3 linked regions of the Homo sapiens genome follow. The protein of the gene in region 3 interacts with the protein of the main gene of each other region in a pairwise test. Each region holds a gene or a part of one and is shown on either strand. Other genes may lie near its edges.

Region 1 (3,651 bases), on a different chromosome or scaffold from region 3:
GTTTAATGCAGAACTTCTGGCCGGAGACGTTAACATCGGGAACCACCTCACAGCCTGGAGGGAGAGAAGGGGTGGTCTAGGAGGTCGGGAGGGGAAGAGCCGCCTGAGGTCCTGGAGTGCATCCTAGCCCACACCGTCACCTCAGGACAGAGGGCATCTTCCCCGGTCTCCAGGAGGAAACAGGGCCGGTGAGAGCATTCACCTGCCTAGCCCACAAGTGGGGATCCCCCCACCCAGCCCCTGGCCCTGTGCACTTACCCTTGAGGTTGAGCTGCTGAATGGGGTCCCCAGGGGCCTCGTCCTGGCTCTTGTAGTAGGACAGTGTGGTCTCCTTGAACACCACCCAGTGTTGGCGGTAGCCCTTCAGGGTCAGCTTCCGGGGCCTTCGTGGGATGCTGGGGTTTGTGAAAGGCCGCCTCACCCCCTCCCTCCATATGCAGACCAACCCCTCCAGCAGGGCTGCCTACTCTGGCCCCCAACTCACCGAAAGATTCGGAGATGGTCCTTGAGCTCTGGGATGGTGGTGAGGCTGTCCTATGGGAGGACCAGAGTCAGAGGGGCACCCGGTACCTCACAGTTCTCCCTGCCCAGCCCCTGCCCTGAGCCCCTCCTCACCAGCACATCTGTGGGCGCCGACCCCTCCAGCTTCACCTCCAGGTTGCTCAGGGCCACATCCAGGTCGTCCAGCCCTGGGTCTGTGCCAGCCGGCTCCCCCACCTCCCCGCTCTGGGACAGCTTGTTGATGTGGTACTAGGTGGTCATGAAGCCAGGGAGGGCTGAGTCCAGCAGCCTGGTCCCCTAGCAGTACCCCCAGGCCGGGCTTCCCTGGAGGTAGCCCCCACTCAGGAAGGCCCTTCCTGCCCTGGGACTGGCTCACCTCCCACCTGCCCTGGTGCCCCCAGGCCCGCCTGGTACCTGCAGGGCGGCAAACACCATCATCTCCTCCTCGGTGCAGTCAATCTCCTCCAGCAGCAGGTCCCACCGGGCCTGCTCATACAGCTGTGTCAGCCGCACGGGGTCTGTCTGGAGCGGGGGGAGAGGAGGCTGGAGGCTGGGCTGGTCAGATGCCAGCTGCCCTGGACGCCCTGCACTGAGCCCCTGCCAGCCTTGGCCCTCTGCCCTGCCCTCCTTGCTGAGGCAGATTCATTCAGTGGCCAGACATGGGCCACAGACCTCAACCCCATCCTTAATAGCCTGCTAGCCCCCTGCTGCCCAGGCCTGCACGTCTAAACCTTGGCTTGGTTGTGCTGATGTTTACTGTGTGCTGGCATGCTGCCCTGGGTGCAGGAGAGACCGAGTAAACCAATCAATAAGTCAAATAATCCAAGGCTGCAATAAACACTATCAAGGAAACAGTTTCCACAGGGAAGCTCACATGAGCCCTCAGTCTAAGGCCCCCCCAAGTTCAATGGAGATGACAGAATGGAACATGGGGAAGCAGTCAGGGAAGGCTTCCCTGAGGAGGTGACAAGCTGAGTAGAGATAGGAAGGATGACAGTGGGCCACTCAAGGGAAGCGTGAAGGAAGAGGATTCCAGAGAAAAGGAACTGGGAAGGCAGAGACTCCAAGAGGGGATCCCAGTTACCCACAGAAGACCAACAATCCCGCTGAAACTCACCCAAAATTGATAGCAAAGGTTTAGGAAGATAAACCCAAAAGGACAAAGGACAGGCCGGGGCGGTGGCTTGCGCCTGTAATCCCAGCACTTTGGGAGGCCAAGGCAGGCAGATAGCTTGAGCCCAGGAGTTTCAGACCAGCTTGGGCAACATGGTGAAACCCTATCTCTACTAAAAATACAAAAAATTAGCCACATGAGGTGGTGCGTGCCTGTAGTCCCAGGTACTCAGGATGCTGAGGTGGGAGAATCACCTGAACCCATGAGGTTGAGGGTGCAGTGAGCTGTAATTGCACCATTGCACTCCAGCTTGGGGGATAGAGTGAGACCTTGTCTCCAAAAGAAAGAAAAAGAAGGCCAGGCGCAGTGGCTCACGCCTGTAATCCCAGCACTTTGGGAGGCCGAGGTCGGTGGATCACGAGGTCAGGAGATCAAGACCATCCTGGCTAACACAGTGAAACCCTGTCTCTACTAATAATACAAAAAAATTAGCCAGGCGTGGTGGCGGGCGCCTGTAATCCCAGCTACTCAGGACGCTGAGGCAGGAGAACGGCGTGAACCCGGGAGGCGGAGCTTGCAGTGAGCCGAGATCGTGCCACTGCACTCCAGCCTGGGCGACAGAGCGAGACTCCGTCACAAAAAAAAAAAAAAAAAAAAAGGAAAAAGGAAATAATTTGGAAGATGGAGAGCAAACTGTAGATGGGAACTGGGTTATGCAGAGAGCGCTAGGGCCTCACGCCTTGTCCCTCTCCTGTCTGGTAAATCCACCAATGAGACTTGAAAATAGGCGGAAAGCAATCAGCAAAAAGAACAGAGATCTCAACAGAGGCATCCAGTTTGCATGGCGGACCCCTGGCAGGCTCTGATGGGGATCCTCTGGATGAGATGCGAGGGTGAGCTGAAGAGAGGACTCTGGATAAAGTCCAAGAAAAAAAGCAGGTCCCTCCCCAGCTCCATGCAGCCAAGTGATGGCAAGGAGACACCTGGCAGAAGCTGGGACTCACTCTCTGGAGATGCTGAGCCAGATGCACCCCTGCATTTGGTACCCCAGACACAGCTGGACGGGGTGGGGGTTGCACTAGGGTGAAAACAGACAATTTTTTTTTTTTAAGATGGAGTTTTGCTCTTGTTGCCCAGGCTGGAGTACAATGGCACGATCTTGGCTCACCGCAACCTCCGCCTCCCGGGTTCAAGCGATTCTCCTGCCTCAGCCTCCTGAGTAGCTGGGATTACAGGCATGCACCACCACGCCCAGCTACTTTTGTATTTTTAGTAGATACAGGCTTTCTCCATGTTGATCAGGCTGGTCTCAAATTCCTGACCTCAGGTGATCCACCTGCCTTGGCCTCCCAAAGTGCTGGGATTACAGGCGTGAGCCACCGTGCCCGGCAAAAACACAAATTTAAAGAAAGCTGGCATTCAGATGAGTGACACACCCACACCCTTTCCCACTTGTCACCCAAGACATTGGCAGGAAGCCTTCTATCTCCAGTTGAAAGATCAGTGGGGTTGCCACTGAGAGGCTGAGCCACCAGAGAAATGCCCGACAAAGAGTGGCAGCCCGGCCCCATCGCCTCCAGGGGGCCACCAAGATGCCAAGCCCTACTCACACACTCAGGGTCTCCAATTGGTTTCTTAGAGCTTCACTTTTAAATATGAATGGACAGGCATGGACTACCCACATTTAAGGAAAGCTTCAAGAGTGAACCATAGAGACCAAGACAACAAGAATAAAACAGCTTGGAGGAAATAAAGGCCAGGTAGGGCGCAGAAGAGAACTTCAAACGTGAATCAAAATCCTTGTAGAGTACAAAAATTAGCTGGGCATGGTGGCACCCGCCTTTTTTTTTTTTTTTTTTTTTTGAGATGGAGTCTCGCTCTGTCACCCAGGCTGGAGTGCAGTGGCGTGATCTCGGCTCACTGCAAGCTCCGCCTCCCAGGTTCACGCCATTCTCTTGCCTCAGCCTCCCAAGTAGCTGGGACTACAGGCGCCCACCACCACGCCCGGCTAATTTTTTGTATTTTTAGTAGAGACA
Region 2 (3,651 bases), on a different chromosome or scaffold from region 3:
TTTTTCTTTTCTGAGACAGTGTCTTGCGTTGTCACCCAGGCTGAAGTACAGTGGCACAATCACAGCTCATTGCAGCCTCAACCTCCCAGCTCAAACAATCCTCCCACCTCAGTCCTCCAAGTAGCTGGGACTTCAGGCACGCTCCACCATGCCTGGCTAATTTTCTAATTTTTTCGTAGAGATGAGGTCTCACTGTTTCCCAGGCTGGTCTCTAATGATTCTCCTGCCTTGGTCTCCCCAAAGTGCTGGGATTACAGGTGTGAGCCACTGTGCCCAGCCAAGTTCAGCTTTTTCTCAAGGGGTAAAGGATAAACCCATTTGGTTACTTGCTGGAGTAGCACTTTGGAGTTACTGAGGGCTGCCCTTAGCCACTGTGCTGGTTTTATCTCAGGGCTGCTTTCTGGAGAGCTTTACAGATATTGTCTCACAGCTGCATTTGCAAGCAGGAAATACTTCTGCTTCCACTTCTGCTTTCTCTCCTTTTTTGGTAGAGGCCCTTTTAGTCTTCTGATCCTTACCCTTCTGGGTTTAGGAAGTTTTGCTGGCAGTAACATGGACTAATGCCCTTTATATAAGATTTTGTTCCTTTGTTGAGAATTTGTTACTGGCCCAATGGCAAAGGGTTCAATAGGACTTAATAGAAATTTTTCATGAAGTCAGTTAAAGTGAGAGTAAGGCTGCCTAGCCAATGCAGGTATTACGTAGGGCAGTCATTGCATGTCTAACCACATACGTCTACCAGTTCTGACTTCTCCATTGCTGGTTTTGAGCTGGAATGATTGCAGGCAAAATTTATTAAGTTGCATATCTACACAAGCCTTTCCTTTCTTCCATCCTTCATCAATCAACAAACATTTATTAACTACTCTTTTTAAGGAAAACTACACCTTCCTGTGAGTGAAATGTGTCCCAGAACAACAGGCACTTCCTTATCCTTCTAGCAACATGGAATTAAGCATGACAGTGTTTTGATATATCCCACCATTATCCCATCACTTTACAGTTGAGGAAACTAGGTCTTAGGCTAAATAACCTTCCCAGTTAATACATAAGAAGAGAGGGGACTTGAACCGTAGGCACAATGCTATTTCTATAATTTAAGGCTGATTGTTTCCCCCTAAGGGAAAGTTTTTAAGTTTGCTTTTGGTCAGGGTGGGCATATTTTGACATAAGGCATTGTCTCATAAGGCAGTTAAGTTTCTTAGTCTTTAGAGTTCCACAGTGATACTTAAGAGCTCTCCTCTCTACCATGGTTTTATGCACAGAATGTCTGCTTTTATCAGTTTTACATATTAGATTGTGTTTAAGGTCTACTTTGAAAAAAGTTTCAATAAGCAGCAAGTGGTCAAAAGAAAAAAAAAAGTTTTGGTACTTAAAACAGTTTGAGAAACATTGCTATGAGAGATAGAGATAGAATCCAGAGTCTCTATCTTAGTGGAGTTTGGTCTGATTAGGGTAATAGACTAGGTTGTATATACATAGAAGCTGGTGATGATAGAAAAGCTGCCATTGAGCGGAGCCTAAGAAACACCACGGGTAGGAGAATGTGAGCCCATAGGAAAGAAGGGTTCTGGAGTCACCACTGTTATGTACCCGGATCACCTGTGACAAGTTCTTCTTTAATCCTCCCAGGGATAAGAAGCATGTAGACTGGGTCAAAGCTTATTTAAGTATATGGACAGAGCTGCAGGCTTACATTAAGGAGTTCCATACCACCGGACTGGCCTGGAGCAAAACGGTTAGTGAATCCTTCCTCCCTCCCTCCCTCCCTCCCACTTTCTCTCTCCAGCATGGGGTCCACAGGTTTCTTAGACTTCAGCACTACCAAAGTCTGTGAGGGAATGCTAGTTTTTTCAGTGGAAGGGAGGAAGAAAAGGAGGAGAAAGAAAGGGTAAAAAGAGTAGAGGAAGCAAGGATCAGAGGAGAAGGAATATTCAGTGGTATTCAATTTCAATAAATATGTTAGGGACAGTGATTGGTGCTGGAGCAGGAGACACACACAAATGAGTTACACTATCCCAGCCTTTAAGGAGCTTAAAAATAAGAATGCAAAACCCCAATACAAATCACCAAGCCAAATGCTATAATAAAGATACAGACTAGAGTATGAGGAAGAGAAGAGTGCTTCTCACTAGAAGAGATTGTACTTTGAAGGTATATACTCTTCTGTGAGACTTGAAAGTAGTATAGGGCAGTGAGAAGTGGGATACTACAAAAGGCACAGCTTAAACAAAATACATGCAGAGTAAATGTAGAGATTGGTCATCTCTGGCTTCAATAAGGGGAAATGATCAGAATTTTAGGAGAAAAGGCTGGAAAGGAAGGTAGGCTGAGACTTTGGGATGAGGTATTTGAGCAAGGGAGTGATAATGATTCAATTTGTCTTTAAAAGAGTCTCAGTGTATAGGTTAGGGATAAGGACTCATGCTCAGATTATGAAAGTGGTCATGGTGTTTGGGGGATAGTAGAAAAACATTTGCAGGAGATAGCACCAAGATAATAGAGATTTGATAAGGTCGAAGAAGTTGGAATCCTCAAAGAAGATTGAATAGTCAGTCTTGGATAGTAACATCTTTCACTGAAATAGGGACAAGGGGATGATTGTACAGGGAGAGGAGCGGCAGGAAATGATGAAATCAGTTTTGAATCTGTTGAATCAGAGGTACTGGTAACACACTAAGGAAGATGTCAAGTAGATTTGTGGAAATAGTTTTTAGAGCTGGAATCAGGTGAGTTCAAAGGCAAAATGTGATGGTCAAGAAATAGAACTGAGAGCTGGATCCTTGGGAAAGGGTGAGAAGGCATAAAGCCAAGTTGGGTATGGGTAGGACACATTAATCATTGCCTCAAAGGCTGTGGTGGGGACCCCATGTGCACTGGCCCATGTAGGGCACTACTGGGAATGGTACAGAGGGGAGCAGAGAGGATGATGATGTTACCTGCACTTATTGTTCCAGGGGCCTGTGGCAAAAGAACTGAGCGGACTGCCATCTGGACCCTCTGCCGGATCATGTCCTCCTCCCCCTCCACCATGCCCCCCTCCTCCCCCAGTCTCTACCATTTCATGCTCATATGAGTCTGCTTCCCGCTCATCACTGTTCGCGCAGATTAATCAGGGGGAGAGCATTACACATGGTGAGTGAGCACTTGGACACGAACAGTAGGTACAACAAGTTGTGTGGGCCAGACCCCACCAACCAGAACCGTCTGTAAACTACAACCCTGGCTTGTGTGGTGGAGACTCGTTTGGTGTGTCCTGTTCCTTTAAGGGACGGCAAAGCTGGCTTAAATGGAAATTGAAAATGATGATCACAGTTGGAGGAAGCCATCTGCCCCATGGGAAAGTGACTTAATATTAGGTAGCATATATAGAGGACCCTCTTGTGCCAAGGCACAGAGCTGGCGGTTTTCCCCAGAGCTTTTTCCGTGGCACCACATGGCCTCTGGGAAGGCATTGTGTTAGGGAGTTAACTTCCTCAGAAGATGCATACTGGTTACATGGAAAATTTGCATGAGAGTGACCTAATGTTGGTATAAAGTAGATACCCTTAACACAGCTGGTGGAAGTCTGAGTTGTCCAGCCACTTCTAGGAATCTATGATCATAGTAGCTAAAAATGGTGTAACAACCTAAATCCAACTGTAAGAGAAA
Region 3 (3,651 bases):
CACTGCACTCCAGCCTAGGCAACAAGAGTGAAATTCCATCTCAAAGAAAAAAAGAAAAAGAGGGCAAATTTCATGTTTTGTGTATTTTAGCACTATTTATTTATTTATTTATTTATGAGACAGAGTCTCACTGTGTCGTCCAGGCTGGTGTGATGTTGGCTCACTGCAACCTCTGCCTCCAGGGTTCAAGTGATTCTCCTGCCTCAGCCTCCGGAGTAGCTGGGATTACAGGCATGTACAACCACGACCAGCTAATTTTTGTATTTTTAGTAGAGACAGGGTTTCACCATGTTGGCCAGGCTGTTGTCAAATTCCTAGTCTCAAGTGATTCACGTGCCTCAGCCTCCAACATGCTGGGATTACAGGCATGAGCCACTGCAGCTGGTTGGCAATTTTTTTTTTTTTTTGAGAGAGGGTCTTGCTCTGTTGCTCAGGCTGGAGTAGTGTGGCATGATCTTGGCTCACTGCAGCCTTCACCTCCTGGGCTTAAGTGATCCTCCCATCTCAGCCTCCCAGGTAGCTGGGTCTGCAGGCATGCACCACTGTGCCTGGTCAATTTTGTAGAGAAGGGGTTTTGCCATGTTGCCTAGACCAGTCTCAAACTTCTGGGCTCAAGTGATCTGCCTGCCTCAGCCTCCCAAAGTGCTGGGATTATAGGTGTGGCCACATTTTTTTTTTTTAAAGGTAATCCAGGCCAGCGCGGTGGCTCACGCCTGTAATCCCAACATTTTGGGAGGCTGAGGTGGGTGGATCATGAGGTCAGGAGATTGAGACCATCCTGGCTAATATGGTGAAACCCCATCTCTACTATAAATACGAAATTAGCCGGGCGTGGTGGCGGGTGCCTGTAGTCCCAGGTACTCGGGAGGCTGAGGCAGGAGAATCGCTTGAACCCGGGAGGCGGAGGTTGCAGTGAGCCGAGAACGCACCACTGCACTCCGGCCTGGGTGACAGAGTGAGACTCCGTCTCAAAAAAATAAATAAATAAAAATAAAAAAGGTAATTCTTGAAAATTGCAGCTGAAAAAGGCCTCAGAGATGTTCTCCCTCAGTGTTTCCTAGGCATGCCGCGAGAACCAGCCACATCAAAATGCAGATTCCTGTTGCCTAAGACCTGCTGATTCAGAATCACGGGTTGAGGGTCTTGGATTCCCCATTGGCCACAAGTGTCTCGAGAGACTCTTACGCACAGTAACATGAGAACTGCCGATCTTGCCTGATGCCCTTGTTTTACAGATGGAGATGGAGGCCCAGGGGCATATCGATTCTCCAGCATCACACAGACAGAAAGAGCAAAGCTAGACATCTGTCTCCTTGGGAACGCTGAGCTGCCTCTCAGTAGACTAAACGGATGCAGTCCGGGGAAGAACGCTCGGCAAATGGTTATGCATTGTCAATGCTGGGAGAGATTTAGGCGGAAGAGGGAGAAAAGTGGGACTTTACTTTTGATTCTATATTTGTACATTATTTCCATTTCTTAAAATAACTATGTAACACTTCCATTTAGATATAATTATACAATATGACAAGTAAGTAAATTGATACTTTTTTCTTTCTTTTCTTTTTTTGAGATGGAGTCTCGCTTTTGTCATCCAGGCTGGAGTGCAGTGGCGTGATCTCGGCTCACTGCAACCTCCGCCTCCCGGGTTCAAGTGATTCTCCTGCCTCAGCCTCCCAAGTAGCTGGGATTACAGGCGTGTGCCACTACGCCTGGCTAATATATATATATATATATATATATATATATATATATATATATATATATGTGTGTGTGTGTGTGTGTGTGTGTGTATATACATATGTGTATATATATGTATACATATGTGTATATATGTGTGTATGTATACGTATATATATGTATGTATACGTATATATATGCGTATATATGTATGTATACGTATATACGCATATATATGTATGTATACGTATATACGCGTATATATGTATGTATACGTATATATATACACATGTATACATATATGTATGTATACATATATATACACACACACACACGTATATATATATGTATGTATGTATATTAAGACGGAGTTTTGCTCTTCTTGTCCAGGCTGGAGTGCAGTGGCGGGATCTTGGCTCACCACAACCTCCGTCTCCTGGGTGGTGGAGAAAAGGGAAAGAGAAAAAGAGAGGAGAGGGAGAGAAAAGAAAAGAAAGGAAGGAGGGAAGGAAAGGGAAAAGAAGGGAAAAGAAGGAAGGAAGGAGGGAAGAAAGGCTACAAACAAGTGTCTTTGGTTTTTTCAGTCATTAAAGACTTTGTTTTTTACAGAGATGTTTCCCAGCACACTACTACTGGCACACCTCATTAACGACGAGTCATTAAGCTTTGCAGAAGTGACTGTGTATATCCAGTTATTGGCAGGGCTTGCTTACTCATTCAGCAAATGTTCACCAAAGTTTGCTCGGTTCCTAGCCCCAGCCAGACACTGGAATCGCAGAGAATCACACAGGGGAGTCAAGACTCTTTCTGCCTTTGAAGGCGTCCATGTCACAGTAGAGAAAACAGGTGAGAAATTACATTAAAAACCACAGCTCAAGCAGGGTGCAGTGGCTCACGCCTGTAATTCCAGCATTTTGGGAGGCCGAGGTGGATGGATCACCTGAGGTTAGGAGTTCGAGACCAGCCTGACCAACACGGTGAAACCCCGTCTCTACTAAAAATACAAAAATTAGCTGGGTGTGGTGGCACGCACCTGTAGTCCCAGCTACTCAGGAGGCTGAGGCAGGAGAATCACTGGAACCCGGGAGGCGGAGCTTGCACTGAGCCAAGATTGTGCCACTGCACTCCAGCCTGGGCGACAGAGTGAGACTCTGTCTCAGAAACAAAACAAAACAAAAAACCACAGCTCAAATGGGGCTCTGTGGTGCACACCTGTAGTTCCAGCTGTTCAAGAGGCTGAGGCAGGCGGATCACTTCAGCCCAGGAGTTTGAGTCTAGCCTGGGCAACATAGTGAGACCCTATCTCTAAAAAATAAATTATTTTTTTTTTTTTTGAGACGGAGTCTTGCACTGTCACCCAGGCTGGAGTGCAGTGGCACAATCTCAGCTCACCGCAAGCTCTGCCTCCCAGGTTCACGCCATTCTCCTGCCTCAGCCTCCTGAGTAGCTGGGACTACAGGCGCCCATCACTGCGCCCAGCTAATTTTTTGTAAAAAATAAAAATATTTTTAAAAAAACAATTCCACAGCTCAAGTGCCATCTCTGCCACTTCAGCAATAGCCTATATTTGCTGAGCACTTGCTACCTGCTCTGAATTGTGTTAAGCACTTTGCATGTATTATCTCTTGAGCTTATGCCTGAGTATAAATCATATTTTTTCTTTTTTTTTTTTTTTTTTTTTTGAGACAGAGTCTTACTCTGTCACCCAGGCTGGAGTGCAGTGGCTTAATCTTCGCTCACTGCAACCTCCACCGCCTGGGTTCAAGTGATTCTCCTGTCTCAGCCTCTAGATTAGCAGGGATTACTGGCGCCCGCCACCACACCCGGCTAATTTTTTTGTATTTTTAGTAGAGACAGGGTTTCACCATGTTGGCCAGGCTGGTCTCGAACTCCTGACCTCAGGTGATCCATCCACCTCAATCTCCCAAAGTGCTGGGATTACAGGCGTGAGCCACCGCACCCAGCTCATTGTGA

What was found.
Region 1: the proteins of NLRP12 (region 3) and FERMT3 interact in a two-hybrid assay, tested with the Homo sapiens proteins (one large-scale study listed by IntAct).
Region 2: the proteins of NLRP12 (region 3) and CAP1 interact in a two-hybrid assay, tested with the Homo sapiens proteins (one large-scale study listed by IntAct).

The regions. Positions count from the first base shown.
Region 1 is NC_000011.10:64,216,623-64,220,273, reverse strand, and holds part of FERMT3 (fermitin family homolog 3 short isoform), read right to left. Parts: intron 1,024-3,651; coding exon 916-1,023; intron 751-915; coding exon 616-750; intron 535-615; coding exon 485-534; intron 396-484; coding exon of another isoform or gene 384-395; coding exon 259-383; intron 55-258; coding exon 1-54. UniProt on the Homo sapiens protein: Plays a central role in cell adhesion in hematopoietic cells. Acts by activating the integrin beta-1-3 (ITGB1, ITGB2 and ITGB3). Required for integrin-mediated platelet adhesion and leukocyte adhesion to endothelial cells.
Region 2 is NC_000001.11:40,064,583-40,068,233, forward strand, and holds part of CAP1 (adenylyl cyclase-associated protein 1), read left to right. Parts: intron 1-1,632; coding exon 1,633-1,738; intron 1,739-2,957; coding exon 2,958-3,135; intron 3,136-3,651. UniProt on the Homo sapiens protein: Directly regulates filament dynamics and has been implicated in a number of complex developmental and morphological processes, including mRNA localization and the establishment of cell polarity.
Region 3 is NC_000019.10:53,817,695-53,821,345, forward strand, and holds part of NLRP12 (NACHT, LRR and PYD domains-containing protein 12), read right to left. Parts: intron 1,399-3,651; exon of another isoform or gene 1,190-1,398; intron 1-1,189. UniProt on the Homo sapiens protein: Plays an essential role as an potent mitigator of inflammation. Primarily expressed in dendritic cells and macrophages, inhibits both canonical and non-canonical NF-kappa-B and ERK activation pathways.